3 linked regions of the Homo sapiens genome follow. The gene in region 3 interacts genetically with the main gene of each other region. Each region holds a gene or a part of one and is shown on either strand. Other genes may lie near its edges. The genes, in order: SP1, STAT3 and IL22RA2.

Region 1 (7,878 bases), on a different chromosome or scaffold from region 3:
CTAAAAATACCAAAATTAGCTGGGTGTGGTGGCGTGCGCCTGTAGTCCCAGCTACTTGGGAGGCTGAGGCAGGAGAATCGCTTGAGCCCAGGAGGCGGAGGTTGCAGTGAGCCAAGATCACGCCACTGCACTCCAGCCTGGCAACAGAGCGAGACCCTGTACCCCCAACAAAAAAAAATGGTTGGGCCCGGTGGCTCATGCCTGTAATCCCAGCACTTTGGGAGGCCGAGGTGGGCGGATCACGAGGTCAAGAAATCGAGACCATCCTGGCTAACATGGTGAAACCCCGTCTCTACTAAAAATACAAAAAATTAGCCAGGCGTGGTGATGGGTGCCTGTAGTCCCAGCTACTCAGTAGGCTGAAGCAGGAGAATAGCGTGAACCCGGGAGGCAGAGCTTGCAGTGAGCCGAGATCGCGCCACTGCACTCCAGTGTGGGCCATAGAGCGAGACTCTGTATAGAAAAAAAAAAGATACGAATTTTAAGCAGGGCATGGTGGCTCGTGCTTGTAATCCCAGCACTTTGGGATTGAGCTCAGGAGTTCAACACCAACTGGGCCACATAATGAGATCTCAACAAAACATCAAAAAGTTAACCAGGTAGCCAGGTGCAGTGCCTCACACCTGTAATCGCAGCACTTTGGGAGGCTGAGGCGGGCAGATCAACTCAGGTCAGGAGTTCAAGATCAGCCTGGCTAACATGGTGAAACCCTGTCTCTACTAAAAATACAAAAATTAGCCAGGCATGGTGGCACATGTCTGTAGTCCCAGCTACAAGGGACGCTGAGGCAGAAAGAATTGCTTCAATCTGAAAGGCAGAGGTTGCAGTGAGCCAAAGTCGCGCCACTGCACTCCAGCCTGGGAAACAGGGCAAGACTCCGTCTCAGGAAAAAAAAAAATTGCCGGGCGCAGTGGCTCACACCTGTAATCCCAGCACTTTGGGAGGCCGAGGTGGGCAGAGGATCACCTGAGGTCAGGAGTTTGAGATCAGCCTGGCCAACATGATGAAATCTCATCTCTACTAAGATACAAAAATTAGCCAGGCATAGTGGCGTGCACCTGTAATCCTAGCTACTTGGGAGGCTGAGGCAGGAGAATCACTTGAACCTGGGCGGCAGAGGTTGCAGTGAGCTGAGATCGCACCACTGCACTCCAGGCTTGGAGACAGAGTGAGACTCTCAAAAAAAAAAAAGAAAAGATAGACACTGCGTGTGTGCATGTAAGGGATCTGAATAGCCTTGATATAAGTTGGTTTTTTTGTTTTTGTTTTTTTTTTTCAGTCTAAAGAACACTTTTTCAGGTTTTTACAGAGCAATTGGACAAGATGGATCATGTCATTCATTTGCTCTCAGGGACTATCAATAAACTAGTATACGTCTAGGGCATTCCTCACTGGCCTCATGCTGAATTGTCTTCTTCTGGAGGAGCAAAGGGGAAAGGATTGTAAAAAGGATGATGGCTATTGAATTTCTGAATTTAGGTCTTTTTGTCAGTTTAATTTTATCCTAATTCCCAATTCGGGTGTAGTCTAGGACTATGGAAAAAACACAGGCTTTGGAACTAAACAGAACAGTCATAATTTAACTAAAATATCTGAGCCTCAGTTTTCTCATCTGTAAAAGGGGACAACTATCTCTTAAATTGGTAGGAATAATTAAATTAGATAAATATGTGAAATGTTTAGAATACTCCTCCACGGTGTTAAGTTTCCTCTCCCTACCTCCACCCCTAAGCAAGTTTAGGTATGGACAGTTGCTGAATGGACTAAACAGCTATTAGAATCTTCAGAGCTTGGTTTACAAAGATGAGTAATGCAGTTTCTTCCTTCCAGGAAATTTCTCCCTTTCTGGAAGTTTCTTTTCCCCAGTTTCTTCTCTTGGTGTTTTTGTTTTGTTTTGTTTTCTTTTCTTTTCTTTGAGACCAAATCTTGCTCTGTCGCCCAGGCTGGAGTGCAGTGGCATGATCCCCGGTCACTGCAACCTCCGCCTCTAGGTTCAAGCGATTTTCCTGCTTCAGCCTTCCGAGTAGCTGGGACTATAGGCATGCACCACCACGCCCGACTAATTTTTGTATTTTTAGTAGAGATGGGGTTTCACCATGTTGGTCAGGCTGGTCTCGAACTCCTGACCTCCAGTGATCTGCCCGCCTCTGCCTGCCAAAATGCTGGGATTACAGGCATGAGCCACTGCGCCCAGCCTTCTTGGTGTGTTTTAAACTAGGTTTAGGGCCTAATCACTTGAAAGAGCTACTTAAAAATAGGTTTAGGGTGGAAATCTAGGAATCTGCCTTTTTTGAAAAAAGAACCCAGAGGATTCTGAGAGTGTGTGACATTTCATTTTGAGAAACCTTGATACAGTGAGAGATGAAATTAATTGTCATGTATTCTGATAAATTTTATAATAAAGGTATCTAAGAGGATGATGCCATTTGATCCGTCCTGGGAGTAGGCTTTTTTTTTTTTTTTTCAGGAGCTAGACAGTAAAAATTAAAAAGCATCTATATATTTACTTTTTTTTTTTTCTTTGAGATGGAGTTTCACTGTCGTTGCCCAGGCCCGAGTGCAATGGCACGATCTTGGCTCACTACAACTTCTGCCTCCTGGATTCAAGCGATTCTCCTGCCTCAGCCTCCCAAGTGGCTGGGATTACAGACATGTCCCACCATGCCTGGCTAGTTTTATATTTTTAGTAGAGACGGGGTTTCTCCATGTTGGTCAAGCTGGTCTTGAACTCCTGACCTCAGGTGATCCGCCTGCCTCGGCCTCCCAAAATGCTGGGATTACAGGCATGAGCCACCGCGCCCAGTCTATATATTTACTTATTTTGGAGCAAGGTCTTGCTTTGTTGTCCTGGCTGGAGTGCAGTGGCAGGATTTGAGCTCACTGCAGCCTCAACCTCCTGGGTTCAAGCGATTCTTCCACCCCAGCCTCCCGAGTAGCTGGGACTACTGGCGCACATCACCACGTCTGGCTAATTTTTGTTATTTTTTGTGGAGACGGGGTTTCACCATGTTGCCCAGGCTGGTCTTTAACTCCTGGGCTCAAGCGATCCGCCCGCCTCGGCCTCCCATAGTGCTGGGATTACAGGTCTGAGCCATTGCGCCCGGCGGCAGTTTAATTCCCTCAAGAATTTATAGAAAACTTTTGGTGGAACTATTCTGGGTTGGAATCTAACACTACAACTCATTTGCTTTGTGACCTTGGGTAAGTCACTTCTCAGCCTAAATGTCTTCACTTATAAAATACATAATATAGCTGATACTTAATAAAATCTTCCTTTTAAGGATGACATGGAATACTAACTGCCTCCCTGACTTAGGCACCTAACACGGTAGGCAGTCAGCAATCACTTCACCTTTTTACCTGTTTAAAGCAGCAGAGGCCTCAGTTCTTACCTTCAAAGGGCTTAAAATAGTTTAGGAGAATTCACATTTTAAAACATAAGAACATATAAGCAGGTGACAACATATAAGATACAAATACTGAAGGACATGACCTCATCGTGTCATTGACAAGCTATTAAGGCCGGCTCCACCAAAACACGGATAAAGAGGAGGCCAGAAATCCAGGTGCCTGCAGTAAAGTTTCTTAACCTTCGTGATTGCAAAAAGCTGGAGCTCAGCTATCTTGCTTTATGCATAGGCGGTATTTACTATTAAGGGGGAAAAAATGGAAGTGACTTATCCGCACTTTAGCCTCAAGGCTTGAAAAGTTAACCAGTCGTTTAAGTGGTTAGCGCCTTTGTCTGGGGGAACTTAATAAAATCGCGTTTTCTGGAGTCTCACGGAGACTCTGCATATTGGTCAGCTCAGTATTAACTTATTCGGTGAGTGCTGTCACCAGATCTCGTCCCGCCTGCATTCCCAGGGCTTGCAGCGACATTGAGGCATCTGCCCGCCTGTCCGACCACCCGGGAGGGGGGTAAGATTTGAGAGGTACTTTATAGGGGCAGTTAAATGAAGACGCAAACAAGTCCTAGTGTTGATGCGGAACTGCGCGCCGAATGCCTTGGCTCTGACACCTGTTGAGCTGCAGGACTCCGCTAAAGCGTCCCACCTAATGACTGTAACAACGTCCCCTGAGGAGGGCCAATATGGCGACGGTCTCCTCTTGGCATAGCCCTCTTCCCTCCCTCATGATGGGCAGCTCCAGTAACGCCCATTGGCTAACTAGGAGGCGGTGCCAGGCCTACTTCGTCCCCTCATTGGATTGAATAACTGAGGGAGCCGCCAATTCTCCTCTGCCACTCCAAGTTTCCGCCCTCAGTTAATTCGGCGTTTAATTGGCTTTTAGTTCACGTCAATATGCGTCCTTTCCTGTCTCTTTTCAGTCTAACTCCAATCATAACGTTCCTGGCTGCCCGCCTGATTTCTGATTGGTTTTAATCAGCTTCATCCTCTCCTATTCCTGCCTACTTCTTACCTCTCCGCCCACTAGGATTTTGCCCAAGCATATCCCGGATTCTGGTTGGCCGTTGTTCTGTCATTCCTATCAAAGCTTTGCCTATCCCTACGTCTCAGGGAGCCCGCCTGCCGGTTGACTGGTTTCCTTCCAAGCCAATCATCTCCAGCTCCCGCCCATCTTCACTTCCTGCATCCTTCATTGGCTTTTAACACTGAGAGGGCGGTCTTTTTAGGCGGACACCAGGCACGCAACTTAGTCTCACACGCCTTGGAGAGCAAGCGAGTCTTGCCATTGGATAATTCCACCGTCTTTCTTCTGCAAGTCCCTCCTTTCCCCCTCCCTCATTGGGCGGGGCAGCAGAGAAGGGGCGGGGCCTAGGTTGGGCTTGTGGCGCGCTGCTCCCTCCTCCTTACCCCCCCCTCCCTGTCCGGTCCGGGTTCGCTTGCCTCGTCAGCGTCCGCGTTTTTCCCGGCCCCCCCCAACCCCCCCGGACAGGACCCCCTTGAGCTTGTCCCTCAGCTGCCACCATGAGCGGTAAGGATGAGTCCACTCCAAGCTTAGGGGTGGGAGGCGAGTGAGGGGGCGCGCGCGAGGGCCGACCGGGCGATCCCCGCCGTGAAGCGGGGGCGGGCGGGAGGCGGCGGCGGCGGCGGCCTAGGTCCCGCCCGGGGCGGAGGGAAGGGAGGGAGACGGGGCAGTGGCGGGGCCTCCGAGGAGGAGGGGGATGGGCCGCCCGCCCCGGGGGAGGGGGCAGCGTGGCCTCGCCCGCCCCCTGCCCGCCCCGGCCACGGGGGACGGGCCTTACCCCCCACTACTCGGCCGCCCGCCTGAGGCTCCTCCCGCCGGGGGCTGGAGCCGCGGGGGCGGCCCGAGCAGCGAAGGCCCCGCCCGGGCCAACCGCCTGCCTGGTCCGCCCTCTGGTCGCCGCCTGCTCCAAGGCCCTCCTCCCCCCACTTTCCGTAGATTTCCCTTCCCCCCCGCCCCCCACCGTCCCGCCCTTTCCACGCCCCTCACCCCGAAACCGCCCTTTCCCTCAGGGCCCGCCCTCCGCCCCGAAACCTTCTGACTACTAACCTGTAGATCCCTTTAGTTCCTTAGCAGTATTCACAAATGTTTTTCTACTCACACTTTTTACTTCTTTTTCCCCTCTCGTTACTTTTCACACTTGGATTTTTGTTTGTCTTTTTTTTTTTTTTTTTTTTTGAGACGGAGTTTTCGCTCTTGTTACCCAGACTGGAATGCAATGGTGCGATCTCGGCTCACTGCAACCTCTGCCTCCCGGATTCAGGCGATTCTCCTGCCTCAGCCTCCGGGAGTAGCTGGAATTACAGGCATGCGCCACCACACCCGGCTAATTTTGTATTTTTAGTAGAGACAGGGTTTCTCCATGTTGGTCAGGCTGGTCTCAAAACTCCCGACCCCAGGTGATCTGCCTGCCTCCGCCTCCCAAAGTAATGGGATTACAGGCGTGACCACCGCGCCTGGCCTCTCCATCTCTTTTAAACTTAATTTTAGCAAGCTTTCCATGCACCCACATGTTGTTTTATGCCTTACCTGTCCTTTTCCTTTTTTTCCCTTAGGATACTTTTTCTTATTTAGAAACTCTCACCATGCCTACCGTCCTTCACATTTCCTATCCCCAAAGCACTTTTTGAATGTTTTCTTAGTTTAATTTTGTACAAGGGAGAATTAAGGCCCACTTTTGGCACATTGAACCTAGTTCATGTCCTGCATGCCCTGCAGCTCCCCTCTGCCCTCCAATCCATTTTCTTTATACTGGTGGCTTTCGCCTTCCTGTTAGTCATTGCTATTTCATCATAGCCTCCTTTTATCCTTCCTACTTCATTTCTTTTCTTCCCTCAAGTTTACGTTGTTTGTTTTTTAATTATTTTAGACCAAGATCACTCCATGGATGAAATGACAGCTGTGGTGAAAATTGAAAAAGGAGTTGGTGGCAATAATGGGGGCAATGGTAATGGTGGTGGTGCCTTTTCACAGGCTCGAAGTAGCAGCACAGGCAGTAGCAGCAGCACTGGAGGAGGAGGGCAGGTAAGTGATAATCATAGAGTGGGGAAGGTGTTGAGAAGATGTAAATATTCTTAGATAATTGCCTTACTCTTCACAGAAAGCGTTTTAGGGAGAGACTAAACCATTTTATAGATAAGGAAGTAAGAGAATGGAGATCCCCAAAGACAAAGGAGTTTCAGCAATACAGATAGGTCAGCTTTTTGTTTCTGTTTTTTGCTCCTTGTCTGCACTACGTTGCTGTTTATTTGTTGTATACTGCCCCCTAGGCTGGCAGCTGGGTGTCACTAACTCCTTTCCTCTCCCTTATTTTCGGCCAGGAGTCCCAGCCATCCCCTTTGGCTCTGCTGGCAGCAACTTGCAGCAGAATTGAGTCACCCAATGAGAACAGCAACAACTCCCAGGGCCCGAGTCAGTCAGGGGGAACAGGTGAGCTTGACCTCACAGCCACACAACTTTCACAGGGTGCCAATGGCTGGCAGATCATCTCTTCCTCCTCTGGGGCTACCCCTACCTCAAAGGAACAGAGTGGCAGCAGTACCAATGGCAGCAATGGCAGTGAGTCTTCCAAGAATCGCACAGTCTCTGGTGGGCAGTATGTTGTGGCTGCCGCTCCCAACTTACAGAACCAGCAAGTTCTGACAGGACTACCTGGAGTGATGCCTAATATTCAGTATCAAGTAATCCCACAGTTCCAGACCGTTGATGGGCAACAGCTGCAGTTTGCTGCCACTGGGGCCCAAGTGCAGCAGGATGGTTCTGGTCAAATACAGATCATACCAGGTGCAAACCAACAGATTATCACAAATCGAGGAAGTGGAGGCAACATCATTGCTGCTATGCCAAACCTACTCCAGCAGGCTGTCCCCCTCCAAGGCCTGGCTAATAATGTACTCTCAGGACAGACTCAGTATGTGACCAATGTACCAGTGGCCCTGAATGGGAACATCACCTTGCTACCTGTCAACAGCGTTTCTGCAGCTACCTTGACTCCCAGCTCTCAGGCAGTCACGATCAGCAGCTCTGGGTCCCAGGAGAGTGGCTCACAGCCTGTCACCTCAGGGACTACCATCAGTTCTGCCAGCTTGGTATCATCACAAGCCAGTTCCAGCTCCTTTTTCACCAATGCCAATAGCTACTCAACTACTACTACCACCAGCAACATGGGAATTATGAACTTTACTACCAGTGGATCATCAGGGACCAACTCTCAAGGCCAGACACCCCAGAGGGTCAGTGGGCTACAGGGGTCTGATGCTCTGAACATCCAGCAAAACCAGACATCTGGAGGCTCATTGCAAGCAGGCCAGCAAAAAGAAGGAGAGCAAAACCAGCAGACACAGCAGCAACAAATTCTTATCCAGCCTCAGCTAGTTCAAGGGGGACAGGCCCTCCAGGCCCTCCAAGCAGCACCATTGTCAGGGCAGACCTTTACAACTCAAGCCATCTCCC
Region 2 (7,974 bases), on a different chromosome or scaffold from region 3:
GGCTAGATGATAGATGCTGAGATTATGAAGACAGGGCTTAAGGGGTTCAAGTTTCCAGGAACCCACAGTTTAGGGGAAGATGTTTGTTAGCACGTGGCCAGAGAGTCAGCCAGACCTGATTTTCATTCTGAGTTTCCACCTAGTTTCTAGCTGTGAGACCAGTCTTGAGCCAGTCTTTCACTTTCTCAGTCTTCGTTTCCTCAATTGTAAAATAAGAATTATAATATTACCCTCACTGGGTTCTGGTGAGGATCAAATGAGATAATCTATGTAAAATGCTTAGCACAGTTCCTGGAATATAGTAGTAATTACTTAATCAATGTTAATTATTGTTTTTTTTCAGGAAGTAGGCCAATATGTGGATTTATTAGAATTCAAGGTAGAGAATGTATTCTAGATGGGGAAACAACCTGCCGAAGGAGTCTGGTAGGAGATTAACTTTGCCAGTAAGAATAGAAGGAAGCCTAGAGGAGGTGATGTTGCAACAGGGCTTTGAAGAATGAGTAAGAGTTCTCAGGTAGGGACTGAGGAAAGAGATTCCAGGTAGAAGGAAGACTATCCACAGAGGCATGAAGTTGCAGAAGGTGTAGACATGTTTGGAGGAAGGTAACACATTTAGTAGGGTTTGTGGGACTAGGTTAGAAAAGGGGGGATTCAGGTCAGCCTTTGTGGAATTTATCTTTTTTTTGAGACAGAGTCTCACTGTATTACCCAGGCTGGATTGCAATGGTGCAATCTTAGCTCACTGCAACCTTTGTCTCCTGGGTTCAAGCGATTCTTCTGCCTCACCCTACCGAGTACCTGGGATTACAGGTGCCCGCCAACACGCTTGGCTAATTTTTGTATTTTTAGTAGAGACAGACTTTCACCATGTTGGTCAGGCTGGTCTTGAACTCCTGACCTCAGGTGATCCACCCGCTTCGGCCTCTCAAAGTGCTGAGATTACAGGCGTGAGCCACTGTGCTGGGCCTGTAGGATTTTATGATTCAAATAAAGAGGGAGAAAGAAGGAACATCAATTGAGCTCCTACCACATGCATGGCACTGAATTATGGTGTTTTTTTCTTTTTTCTTTTTTTTTTTGAGACAGAGTCTCACTTTGTTGCCTGGGCTGGAGTGCAGTGGCATGATCTCGGCTCACTGCAACCTCTGCCTCCCGGGTTCAAACGATTCTCCTGCCTCAGCCTCCCAAGTAGCTGGGATTACAGGCACCCGCCACTATGCCCAGCTAATTTTTTTGTATTTTTAGTAGAGACGGGGTTTCATCATGTTGGCCAGGCTGGTCTCGAACTCCTGACCTCAGGATTCGCCCGCCTCGGCCTCCCAAAATGCTGGGATTACAGGCATGAGCCACCGCGCCCAGCCATGGCACTGAATTAAATGGTCAGCTTTTTGTTTATTGTTTGTTTTTGAGACAAGGTTGGTCTTGTTCTGTTGCTCAGACTACAGTACAGTAGAACAGTCATAGCTCACTGTAACTTCGAACTTCTTTCTAAGTTCAAGTGATCCTCCTGCCTCAGTCCTCAGAATAGCTGGGACTACAGGCATGCCACCACCACGCCCGGCTAATTTTTTGTAAAGTTGGTGTTTTGCCATGTTGCCCAGGCTGATCTCGAACTCCTGGCCTCAAATGATCTTCCTGCCTCGGTCTCCCAAAGCTTTAGGATTACAGGCATGAGCCACTGTGCCTGGTCAGCATTTTTAAAATTTAACTTGGATTGGCCGGACACGGTGGCTCCCAGCACTTTGGGAGGCTGAGGTGGGCGGATCACTTGAGGTCAGGAGTTCAAGACCAGCCTAGCCAACACAGTAAAACCCCGTCTCTACTAAAAATGCAAAAATTAGCTGGGCATGGTGGTGGGCACCTGTAGTCCCAGCTACTTGGGAAGCTGAGGCAGGAGAATTGCTTGAACCTGGGAGGCGGAGGTTGCAGTGACCCAGGATCATACCATCGCATTCCAGCCTAGGCGACAAGAGGAAACTCTGTCTCAAAAAAAAAAAAAAAAAAAAAAATTAACTTGGATTTTATCTTGCCGGTAGTAGGGAACCATAGAGATTTTTAAGCCGACTGTGACATGATTGAATTTTTTTTTTTTTTTTTTTTTGAGCCAGGGTCTTGCTCTATCGCCTAGGCTGGAGTGCAGTGGAGGGATCTGGGCTCACTGCAACCTCCACCTCCTGGGTTCAAGCAATTCTCCTGCCTTAGCCTCCTGAGTAGTTGGGACTACAGGCACGTGCCACCATGGCTAGCTAATTTTTACTTTTGTTTTGAGATGGAGTTTCGCTCTTGTTGTCCAGGCTAGAATGCAATGGCGCGATCTCGGCTCACTGCAACCTTCACCTCCCGGGTTCAAGAGATTCTCTTCCCTCAGCCTCCCGAGTAGCAGGGATTACAGGTGCAAGCCACCATGACTGGCTGATTTTTGTATTTTTAGTAGAGACAGGGTTTCATCATATTAGTCAGGCTGGTCTCGAACTCCTGACCTCAGGTGATCTGCCCGCCTCAGCCTCCTAAAGTGCTGGGATTACAGGCGTGAGCCACAGTGCCCAGCCTAATTTTTGTATTTTTAGTAGAGACGGGGTTTCACTGTGTTGGCCAGGCTGGTCTTGAACTGACCTTGTGATCCACCCGCCTTGGCCTGAATGTTTATTTATTTAATTTTTAGGATGATGTCCCTGGCAGCCAGTGGAAGAATAGGATAGAATAAGGAGAGAATAATCAGGTGGTTAAGGCAGTGGCCCAAGGGACAGAAATTGCAGCATTTAGCCAAGAGGAATTTGGCGGGGTTGTGGAGAAAGGCCAGTGTCTGGGCTGAAGAGAATTTTTGCAGGTCAAACCCATAGTCGCAGAGGTAGATTTTATGTGTTACTGGTGGGGAGGCCAATGAGGGAAACAGAGGCCAGCTCTTGAGAAGTCAGAAGCAGGGCAGGGTTTGAATGAATGGAACAAAGCTATGGGACGTAAAGCCCCCAAACCTGACTCTGAACCTGGTATATTTCTGAGTTTCTCTGTGATCTTGAAAATGTCATATTATGTTGTCTTTAGTTTTCTATCAGCGGATAATATGGCCTCTCCTATCTGCTATTCATGATTGTGAGAAAGAAACCAGGCAGGGAGTGTATAAGGTGTGTAAGTCCTTTGTAAGCAGTAAATCACTAAACAAATCCTAGACCCTATGTTATCAGGGAGGCAGTTGGCCGCACGGGATAGCGTAGTTACAAGAGACTATAGGCGGAGATGGGGGATATCTGTCCTGTGGTGTAGATAAACAGCCTAATCAATACACACACACTCTACAGGTAAATACAGCAATTTCCATACTGAGCTGTGTCTACCAGAGGGCAATAGGAGGTTCTCAATTCTCACCACCAGTGACCCTATGAATTGCCCTGTAGATGCCTCTGTCCCTCATTGGATATGAGGTGGTACGAGCGGTCTGAATCTGTAGACTTAGACAGGCTTCAGGTATCTGGGGAACCATGTGAGTAAAACCTTGTATTGTTTCTGGGGCTAGAATCTAGTCTCCTTCAAACACTCAGAAGGATCTGTGACTGCCTTCAAAGGTTAAGAGTCATTGATTTTTCTCACTAGAAATTAATAAGAACAGCTATCCTTGGGGAGAAGGAATGATGGGGGTAGGGAAAGATTTTCATTTAATATTTTTGACCTTTCTGAACGGTCTGCATTTTCTAAACAGGAACATGTATTAGGTTCATTGAAAAAAAATATGTCAGGGGTTAGCTGAGCAGTGAGATAATGGGTCCTTTTTAGATTTTTGTCTTTATACCTGTTCGTATTAAACAAACACAAATATTAATAACATATTTTTAAAGACCCAAAAAAATAAAAATTAAAAACCCTGATAGTATCAGCACATACACAGAAATCACTCCATTATGCAAAGTTCATCCTCTATTATGAAAGGCAAAATGTCTACATTTCCTATCAACCACTGGCTTCAATTCAGTAAAACTTGCATACCAAGTAGGCAAGGTGGAAAAGAAAAAGGCAGAACATTTCATGTATTTCAATTCAGACGCATAAAAATGTCAAGCCCTACACGTTATCAGCTTTCGTATACACCGTCTTCTGCATTCGCCTGTACGGGCCAATGGGCTAGCTGGTCGGCGTTTGATGCTTGAAGTGATGGAACGGAGTACGGGGTTAAATCCACTACCCTCTCCCCACGCACTCTAGTAATTACTCTATTTCCACGTCATGTTTCCGGGTGTGTGTGTCCCTGCTCACGCAGAAACTGAAGTTCAAAGCAGGCGGAGTCACCCATGTTCTTTTTGTTGTCCCCAGAACCCAATTCAGGAGTTGGGTCCCCAGAGGATCTGGAGATACCTGGGGACTATCTAACTAGCTGATTCCCGCGTGGTAAGAGGCTCTCAACCTCGCCACCACGTGGTGCCAAGGGCCGGGAAAAGGGAGAGCGGGCAGGAGGGAGCTGTATCAGGGGCATTTAAAGTGCCTTGACGTCACGCACTGCCAGGAACTCAGCTGAGTTTTCAGCAGGACATTCCGGTCATCTTCCCTCCCTCCCCCCGGGCTTCTGTGCCCAAGTCCTCGGCTCTTCCCTCGCTGTGGCGGAGGGAGGAGCACCGAACTGTCGGAACAGCCAGCACAGGGGCGTATCAGTCTCCTCTTGGCTCCGCCCTTTCTCCTAGCTGCTCTCCTCATTGGTCAGTGGGCGGGGCTTCGGCTGTACCGCACACGCACTGGGACCTCTGGGTGGCCGAACGAGCTGGCCTTTCATGAATTATGCATGACGGCGTGCCTCGGCCAGGCTGGGGCTGGGCGAGGATTGGCTGAAGGGGCTGTAATTCAGCGGTTTCCGGAGCTGCGGCGGCGCAGACTGGGAGGGGGAGCCGGGGGTTCCGACGTCGCAGCCGAGGGAACAAGCCCCAACCGGATCCTGGACAGGCACCCCGGCTTGGCGCTGTCTCTCCCCCTCGGCTCGGAGAGGCCCTTCGGCCTGAGGGAGCCTCGCCGCCCGTCCCCGGCACACGCGCAGCCCCGGCCTCTCGGCCTCTGCCGGAGAAACAGGTGAAGGGGGTGCAGGGTGGGGCCGTTGGGGAGGCCTGGGGACCCGGGGGCTCCGCAGCGGCAGGGGGCCTCTGGGACCTTGGGGATGTTGTGATGGACGCTGCAGTGGGGCCGGGAGAGATGAAGAGACGCGGAGGGTCGCCCTGAGGGAAGACTCTTCGGGATGACAGGAGCGGGCCTCGGAAGGGACTCGGGGCGCTGGAGGGAAGTTTCGTTCTTCGGAGAAACAGAACGCGCTCGAGGGGGCACCGTGGGGCGAGGGCGCACTCGGTTGCGGCGGCAGGAGTGAGGGACAGTCCCCCGATTTCCTGCTCCCTGGGGCCCTGGGGACGTTCCGGCCACCGGAGCGACTGTCACGCCGACGGGGATCACCGGCGCGAGTGGGGGGTCGGAAAGCGCCTCCTCCCCGCCCGGTCGGCGGCTCCCGCTGAGCCACTTCCTCCGCTTGCCCTGTTCCCGCTCCTTCAGGAGACAGCTGTGCCCTTTTGGAGGCAGGAATAGGTGTGTCTGTCGCCTGCAGCCTTACGGGCTGGCTGGTCGTGGGTAGGCTTTATTGCATAAGAATCAAGTTTCCTGTAGGGAAATTGACAGACCGGTACTCTTTCTAAATTCCCTCGCATCTTTTTCTAGGTTAAATTATGCTCCCCCCACGTCCCCGCCTTGTAAAAAAGAGAAAAAAAGACAAAATAAAATCCCCATCAACCCGTCAAGCCAGCTCTAGAGAGAGAAATAAACCTCTTGACATTGTCCTTTTCCAAATACCTGGTAAAGTCGGCCAGAAGATAAATAATTGAGCCATTGCATTTACTGGATTGTGGTGTTGCTTAATTGCATAGGACGGAATGAACCAATTGAGAGTGGGAGTTTTCTGTCTCAGAGCCAAGATCTTGGGTAAATGCAGAGGAGAGGGAAACAAAGACAGGCTGGCCTTGAAAAAACCATGTGTGCAAACTTTACATGCATTTGGGGGGTGTGGTTGCACTGAAGTTAACAAGATTCAAACCGTCGCCCAAGTTGGTATTTCCATGTTTGGTACACATCACTCTGTGCCATATCAGGTCGTTGTTAAGTGTGGTGACAAAATCAGTGGTTAGTCATTTTTTTAATTAAAAATGTGTATAGTGTGTACCTGCTGGTCTTACTGTATGTGCAACTAAAGGTTTACATAGTCTGTGTATGGGTTGTAAATTTTTGGCTGGCTGTGCTGATAAAGCATTGGGCTTGAATAAAGCAAAGCAGAAAATCATCTCAATCTTTTATATGTGGATTTAGACTGTGTTATGACTTGGTTCAGCCAGTTTTCTATCTTATTTTATATTAAATATGTCTGTGTTCTCTGAGTCAGCACATTTATTTCCTTATTACATGTTCCAGACAGGAGTGCTAGCCCAGTTTTTGTTCAGTTTGCACAGTGGGATGGGGAAACAAGTCTGGAATTTAAAAAAAAATGTTTTAGAGGTTGGAGCCTTGATTTTAGTCTCTATATTAGCACATCCATCACAAAGAACCATTAGTAAATTCATGAATCTTTTGTTTTTTATGTAGTTCATTTGAGAAGAATAATCACTTAGAAATATCCACAGTGCCAGGCATGGTGGTGCACACCTCTGATCCCAGCTAATTGAAGGCTGAGGTGGGAGGATTCCTTGAGTCCAGGAGTTGAGTCTGGTCTGGGCAACATGGTGAGAGGCCAGGAATTGGGTCTAGAGTCTAGTCTAAGCACCATAATGAGAACCCATCTTTAAGAAAGAAAGAAAGGAAAGGAGGAAGAAAGGAAAGAAAAAGAAATACCCACAGCACAGTTATGAATTAACCCACAAAGGACTTGTGAGGTGGGTAGTTCACATAACAATTACCCTAATATCGTAGATAAGAAAATTGAGGCCAAAGGATCAAGACACTTGGCCAACGCAGCAGAGTGCCATAGTGGTGGAATTTGTGCCTCCTTCTGTATATTTTGTGAAAAGTATCAGTGAAATTCTTTTTTTTTTTTTTTTTGAGTCAGAGTCTTGCTCTGTTGCCCAGGCTAGAGTGCAGTGGCGCAATCTTGGCTCACTGCAACCTCTGCCTCCTGGGTTCAAGCGATTCTCCTGCCTCAGCCTCCCAAGTAGCTGGGACTACAGGCGTGCGCCACCACGCCCAGCTAATTTTTGTATTTTTAGTAGAGACCGGGGTTTTACCATATTGGCCAGGCTGGTCTTGAACTCCTGACCTTGTGATTTGCCCACCTCTATCTCCCAAAGTGCTGGGATTACAGGTGTGAGCCACCGCGCCCAGTAAGTATCAGTGAAATTCTAACATATATCTGAACAGTAAAATACCACCAATAGGCTGAAAGACTTCATGGGAGGTAAATATTCAATAAACAGGTGAAAAAAGAAATACAAATGGAGCTTGCTTAGATTATTTTTCTAATTGCTATGTCTAACTTGGGAAGTGAGGAACTGTTTTTGGTCAGCATAATTTACCATCAGAATTTAGCTATTTACTAATGAAAAGAAATACTAATCTAGGTTTGTTTTAGATTAAGGACAGTCATGACCTAAATGTCATTTAAACCAGAGTGCATTGTGGCTTGATCAGTGGTCATTTCTGTCTCTAGAAAGTTGCTTTAACTTCTCTGCCTCTACGTGTCTCTTGACATTCAGATATGAGGTGGGGTAGAGGTGGTGACCAACTTTCCAGACGCCTGAGTCCAAACCTTCTTAGCTTATGGTTTTCTTAGGTGATGTGCAAATCAACAAATATATACTTTTTTTTTTTTTTTTTTGAGTTGGAGTTGCACTCTATCACCCAGGCTGGAGTGCAGTGGCATGATCGTGGCTCACTGCAACCTCCTCCTCCCGGGTTCAAGTGATTCTCGCACCTCAGCCTCCTGAGTAGCTGGGATTACAGGTGCCCGCCACTACGCCCGGCTAATTTTTG
Region 3 (6,430 bases):
TTGTGACTTCCTCCAGAAAAACATAATTTTATTTAGGAGCCATATGATCAGACTTGTGTATAGAAAAGATCATTTTGACTATATTTTGGGGAACAGGTTGGATGCAGATAAGTGAAGTAGCAGGTTACTAATAATAGTCTACAGGAGACCGAATTTGGCTTATGAAAAGGACTAGAGAAAATTTATTCCTGGAGGGACATTTAGTAAGCAACATTGGCAGGACCAGGTGATAGATCGGATATAATGGTGAAGAGGACATGTCAAAGATGACCTCTAAGTTTCTTGCATGCATAATTAGATGAATTGCTGAGATCTTTTTGATGGGGTTTGATGAAAAAGACCAGTTTGGTGGGATGCAAGGTAATAGAGATTATGAGTTTGGTTTTGAATATGTTAAGCTTAATATGCTTTTAAGAGATCCAGGGGACATATCTCTTCAGATCCAAGACTCAAAGTAAAGTCTTTATTAGAGACAAAAATTTGTGAGTCATTTCATGCATACAGTACAGTGGACATTGATAGGATTGCCTAGGGAGAGAGTAGTGAGTGAGAGGCAGTTTTGAGTAAGACCAGATATTGAGGGACTTTCACCCAAAGATGCCTGAGTAAGAAAAATCTTAAAAGGAGACTGAGAAGGAATAGCCAAAGAGGTAGGAGGAAATCTGTGGGCTGATATGTTCATGAATAGTGCGGGAAGGTAATATTTCAAGGAGAGAGCTGTTAAAGAGTAAAGTGCTATGAGGTCAAATAATCTTGACTTGGTCTTGTAACACAATCACAATCCAGTGAATGGGTCAAGAAACTTGCAACTGATTGCAAAACTGATTTTGCAATCAATTGCAAAATCTAGCATCACAGATCATAAGCCAGGAGCCCTGTGATGTCCGCAGCTGACTCACTGATAGGACAATGCCTGAAATATGTGCCTCACTACAAAAGGGACATGTTTATTTAAAGTTAACTATCCCATTATTCCAATATAGTTGGAAAGTGCTTTAAAAACTTATGGTTCCAAATTAAATAGCCTGGGAGTAGGAAACTCTCTTCTTCTAAAACACTTAGAAATTCTGGATAAAACACATTCTCCAAACTCCACAGAGGGGCAAAAATAAAAATAAAGGGAATCCTTGGGGGCCAAAACAAAGTAAACGGAAATCAAAGGGGAACCAGAAGACCAACACAGTGACTGCCCCAGCTGCCCTGAAGGCATTTGCTGGATGTGGTAACTAGACCCTAAGTGGTAACAGCCACTCCCAGGACAAAAGACAAGGTTTTAGGCCAGCACAAGGCAGGGAGTTAGAACTAATACCCCTACAAAAGTCTTAGAACCTCCAAGGGCTACACTGTCAATAAAAAGTCAGACTAGCCTGGATGTGGTGGCATGCACCTGTAATCTCAGCTACTCAGGAAGCTGAAGGAGAATCACTTGAGTACAGGAGTTTGAGCCCAGCCTGGGCAACATAATGAGATCCTGTCTCAAAAAAAAACCCAAAACCAACCAACCAAACAAACAAACAAAAGTCAGATTAAGAAAAGCCCTTCCAATAAACAGAGGAAAGTAATTTGTATGTTTCCATCTTTATTCTGCTAAGAATCTAACACTCCCTACATTTATAAAGGTTCGAGATTCAAATACATATGCAATTTTCTTTTTTATTTTTGTTTTTTGACATGGGTTTCACTATGCCACACAAGCTATAGTGCAGTGGCATGATCATAGCTCACTGCAGCCTCGGCCTCCCTGGGCTCAGGTGATCCTCCCACCATGCTGATTTGTCATTATACATAATGCGTCTGTATATAATACATTCCTTTGATGATTTGTCAAATTTTTATGTTTTTTCTTCAGCAAAAATAGATCCTCCAGTCATGAATATAACCCAAGTCAATGGCTCTTTGTTGGTAATTCTCCATGCTCCAAATTTACCATATAGATACCAAAAGGAAAAAAATGTATCTATAGAAGATTACTATGAACTACTATACCGAGTTTTTATAATTAACAATTCACTAGAAAAGGTAAGTTCAGATGAATAGATATATTTAGAGTTTTTTTCTTTTGTTTATTTAACCAATATTGTGGTCATATGAGATGTCCTCTTCTGCTACTCTGCCTCCTCTTACTTTTCCTTATCTTTAATTTCTTCTTACTCTCAGCCATCATTGATCAACGGTTGGTGGTGGCATCACCATCAGAATGTGTGTGTGCCCTTTCCATCCTCCGGTTTGTCTCTACAGTCTTCCCTGCATATCTAAAGATTGGTATTAACCGTATTTAATTGCATGTGACTGCCACAAATATTCATTTTTACGGGCTTTGCACACCTTATTTATTTATTTATTTATTTATTTATTTATTTATTTATTATGTATTTTATTTTTAGACCAGGTGTCACTCTGTCACCCAGGCTGGAGTACAGTGGTGATCATAGCTCACTGTAGCCTCTAACTTCTGGGCTTAAGTGGTCCTCCTTCTTCAGCCTCCTGAGTAGCTGGGACTAGAAGCATGCCCATCACATCCAGCTTTTTTTTTTTTTTTTTTTTTTTTTTTTTTGTAGAGGCAAGGTCTCACTATGTTGCCCAGGCTGGTCTCAAACTCCTGGCCTCAACCAATCCTCCAGCCTTGGCCTCCCAAAGTGCTGGGATTGCAGGCATAAGCCACCTCCCCGGCCTCACACCTTATTTTAAAATAGCTTTTGAATCACATGATTATTTTTGTGCCAGTTTTGCTGCGATTTTTTTTTTGAGACAGGGTCTGACTCTGTCACCCAGGCTGGGGTGCAGCAGTGCAATCACAGCTCACGGCAGCCTCAACATCCTGGGCTCAAATGATCCTCCCACCTCAGCCTCCCAAGTAGCTGGGACTACAGGTGCATGCCACCATGCCCAGCTATGTTTTTTTGTACTTTTAGTAGGGACAGGCTCTGGCCATGTTGCCCGGGCTGGTCTTAAACTCCTGGGATCAACTGATCTGCCTGCCTTGGCCTCCCAAACTGCTGGCATTACAAACATGAGCCACCAGGCCTGGCCTTGCAGTGGTATTCTAATCCACCATCGGTGCTTCTGTCTGGATTTGGTGGATAATTGAATTTGTTCCTTTTTTGGTGCCATCTAAGATGAGGGGTTTTTGTCGTAAGGAGCAGAAACCACAGTTTAACTTGTTTAGAAACAAAAGAGGAGGGGAGGGATAATTAGGAGATAGGCAAGCAATCTCAGGGACAGAGGCAGGACGTAGAGTGCCGGCAGCCTTAGTGGTGACTGGGAAGGGAAACGGAAGTGAGTTCTAAGGGATCCTGCTCTGTCTCTCAGACTTTCTGTCTCTATGTGGCCACAGTTTCATGCCTGCAGTTATCTCTGCTCATCTCGCTGCACATCATTCTCACTGCACACTTCAAATTCTTAAAAAGAAGGCCAGGTGGGGTGGTTCATGCCTGTAATCCCAGCACTTTGGGAGGCTGAGGCAGGCAAATCATTTGAGGTCAGGAGTTCAAGACCTGCCTGGTCAACATGGTGAAACTCCATCTCTACTGAAAATACAAAAATTAGCCAGGCGTGGTGGTATGCGTCTGCAATCCCAGCTACTCAGGAGGCTGAGGCACGAGAATCTCTTGAACCTGAGAGGCAGAGGTTGCAGTGAGCCGAGATGGTGACACTGCACTCCAGGCTGGATGATGGAGTGAAACTGTATCTCAAAAAACAAACAAAATTCTTAAAAACAAGACTCTGACCATGGGGTCAACCAGCCAACAGCCCTCAAGGAGAAGTCAAGTTGCACCTACACAGCCACTTGCCTTGTCCCTTTACCAGGCTATGGCCTAGGACTCTAGAAAAGAAGGATGTGTCTGGGAAGAAACCCCACAACCCATCTACTGCTGTGACCATGTACAACTTGTTAATTTAAACAAAAATGCAGCTGTGACTTAATGGCAGCCATTTACCAACTGATTATTTTCTCTCTCGTGTGTAGGAGCAAAAGGTTTATGAAGGGGCTCACAGAGCGGTTGAAATTGAAGCTCTAACACCACACTCCAGCTACTGTGTAGTGGCTGAAATATATCAGCCCATGTTAGACAGAAGAAGTCAGAGAAGTGAAGAGAGATGTGTGGAAATTCCATGACTTGTGGAATTTGGCATTCAGCAATGTGGAAATTCTAAAGCTCCCTGAGAACAGGATGACTCGTGTTTGAAGGATCTTATTTAAAATTGTTTTTGTATTTTCTTAAAGCAATATTCACTGTTACACCTTGGGGACTTCTTTGTTTATCCATTCTTTTATCCTTTATATTTCATTTGTAAACTATATTTGAACGACATTCCCCCCGAAAAATTGAAATGTAAAGATGAGGCAGAGAATAAAGTGTTCTATGAAATTCAGAACTTTATTTCTGAATGTAACATCCCTAATAACAACCTTCATTCTTCTAATACAGCAAAATAAAAATTTAACAACCAAGGAATAGTATTTAAGAAAATGTTGAAATAATTTTTTTAAAATAGCATTACAGACTGAGGCGGTCCTGAAGCAATGGTTTTTCACTCTCTTATTGAGCCAATTAAATTGACATTGCTTTGACAATTTAAAACTTCTATAAAGGTGAATATTTTTCATACATTTCTATTTTATATGAATATACTTTTTATATATTTATTATTATTAAATATTTCTACTTAATGAATCAAAATTTTGTTTTAAAGTCTACTTTATGTAAATAAGAACAGGTTTTGGGGAAAAAAATCTTATGATTTCTGGATTGATATCTGAATTAAAACTATCAACAACAAGGAAGTCTGCTCTGTACAATTGTCCCTCATTTAAAAGATATATTAAGCTTTTCTTTTCTGTTTGTTTTTGTTTTGTTTAGTTTTTAATCCTGTCTTAGAAGAACTTATCTTTATTCTCAAAATTAAATGTAATTTTTTTAGTGACAAAGAAGAAAGGAAACCTCATTACTCAATCCTTCTGGCCAAGAGTGTCTTGCTTGTGGCGCCTTCCTCATCTCTATATAGGAGGATCCCATGAATGATGGTTTATTGGGAACTGCTGGGGTCGACCCCATACAGAGAACTCAGCTTGAAGCTGGAAGCACACAGTGGGTAGCAGGAGAAGGACCGGTGTTGGTAGGTGCCTACAGAGACTATAGAGCTAGACAAAGCCCTCCAAACTGGCCCCTCCTGCTCACTGCCTCTCCTGAGTAGAAATCTGGTGACCTAAGGCTCAGTGTGGTCAACAGAAAGCTGCCTTCTTCACTTGAGGCTAAGTCTTCATATATGTTTAAGGTTGTCTTTCTAGTGAGGAGATACATATCAGAGAACATTTGTACAATTCCCCATGAAAATTGCTCCAAAGTTGATAACAATATAGTCGGTGCTTCTAGTTATATGCAAGTACTCAGTGATAAATGGATTAAAAAATATTCAGAAATGTATTGGGGGGTGGAGGAGAATAAGAGGCAGAGCAAGAGCTAGAGAATTGGTTTCCTTGCTTCCCTGTATGCTCAGAAAACATTGATTTGAGCATAGACGCAGAGACTGAAAAAAAAATTTACTTTGATCTCTGTTTTTGAATTCTTATTATTTATATTTTGCTTACTACCTTTTTTGCCTTTTGTCCTTTTGTGGAGAGGGCGATGAATTAAGAGTAGTGGGGTGGGTGGCGAGTAAGTAAAATTTCAAATAGCATTTTAGTGAATGCAATTCAGTAGTCCTGAAGCCTGACTTAATAAAACAAAATTCATTTATGGTTGTTTCATGAAAGTTATTAGATAGGATCAAGTTTTGTTTGTATATTGTTTGCCTTGCTCTGTTTTTGCTTTTGTGCTTAGGCAAGTGCAAAATACTCTATGGAAATCATAATTGTCATCTTCTTCATGGTGTTAGGGATATATTGTCACATGATTTCAATAAATCCTTTTTTTGCTTTACATTTTGGAATATTTGTTATTTGAGCTTTTAAAAGAAGAACACAATGTTTAAGTCTGCCAGATGAAATTCCAGTTAAACATCTTAGGCCCACACGAAGTTCCAGCCAGGAAGGAGCAAACAGTTTTGAGCCCGACTGAGCTTGCCCTGTGATCAAATGCAATCCCAGTCTTACAGCTGCTCAGGCCAAAAGCGTTGAGGTTATCTTTGTCTCCCCGCTTTCTTTCACATCATATATATTCAATGCACCAATAAATTCTATTGATCTACCTCCAAAATACAACACTTCTCAGAACTACCTATTCCAGGCCACCATCATTTCTCCTCTGGATGGTCACTATGGTTACCTCATTGGTGTCCCCGCTCTGCTTGCCTCCCTCCAGTTTTGTCTTAACAAGGTGGCCAGCATGAGCCTTGGAACATAAATCAGATCATGTCACTTTCCTGCTCTAAAACCGCCAATAGCTTCCCATCTCATAAGGGTAAAAACCAAAGTCTTTATAATGGCCTC

What was found.
Region 1: changes in IL22RA2 (region 3) and SP1 together harm fitness less than expected from each alone (positive genetic interaction), as found in Homo sapiens cells (one study listed by BioGRID).
Region 2: changes in IL22RA2 (region 3) and STAT3 together harm fitness more than expected from each alone (negative genetic interaction), as found in Homo sapiens cells (one study listed by BioGRID).

Annotation. Positions count from the first base shown.
Region 1 is NC_000012.12:53,375,364-53,383,241, forward strand, and holds the start of SP1 (transcription factor Sp1), read left to right. Parts: upstream 1-4,812; 5' UTR 4,813-4,928; coding exon 4,929-4,935; intron 4,936-5,280; exon of another isoform or gene 5,281-5,321; intron 5,322-6,295; coding exon 6,296-6,450; intron 6,451-6,746; coding exon 6,747-7,878. UniProt on the Homo sapiens protein: Transcription factor that can activate or repress transcription in response to physiological and pathological stimuli.
Region 2 is NC_000017.11:42,385,354-42,393,327, reverse strand, and holds the start of STAT3 (signal transducer and activator of transcription 3), read left to right. Parts: upstream 1-4,885; 5' UTR 4,886-5,049; intron 5,050-7,974. UniProt on the Homo sapiens protein: Signal transducer and transcription activator that mediates cellular responses to interleukins, KITLG/SCF, LEP and other growth factors. Once activated, recruits coactivators, such as NCOA1 or MED1, to the promoter region of the target gene.
Region 3 is NC_000006.12:137,143,311-137,149,740, reverse strand, and holds the end of IL22RA2 (interleukin-22 receptor subunit alpha-2 isoform 1 precursor), read left to right. Parts: intron 1-1,849; coding exon 1,850-2,019; intron 2,020-3,967; coding exon 3,968-4,117; 3' UTR 4,118-5,921; downstream 5,922-6,430. UniProt on the Homo sapiens protein: Isoform 2 is a receptor for IL22. Binds to IL22, prevents interaction with the functional IL-22R complex and blocks the activity of IL22 (in vitro). May play an important role as an IL22 antagonist in the regulation of inflammatory responses.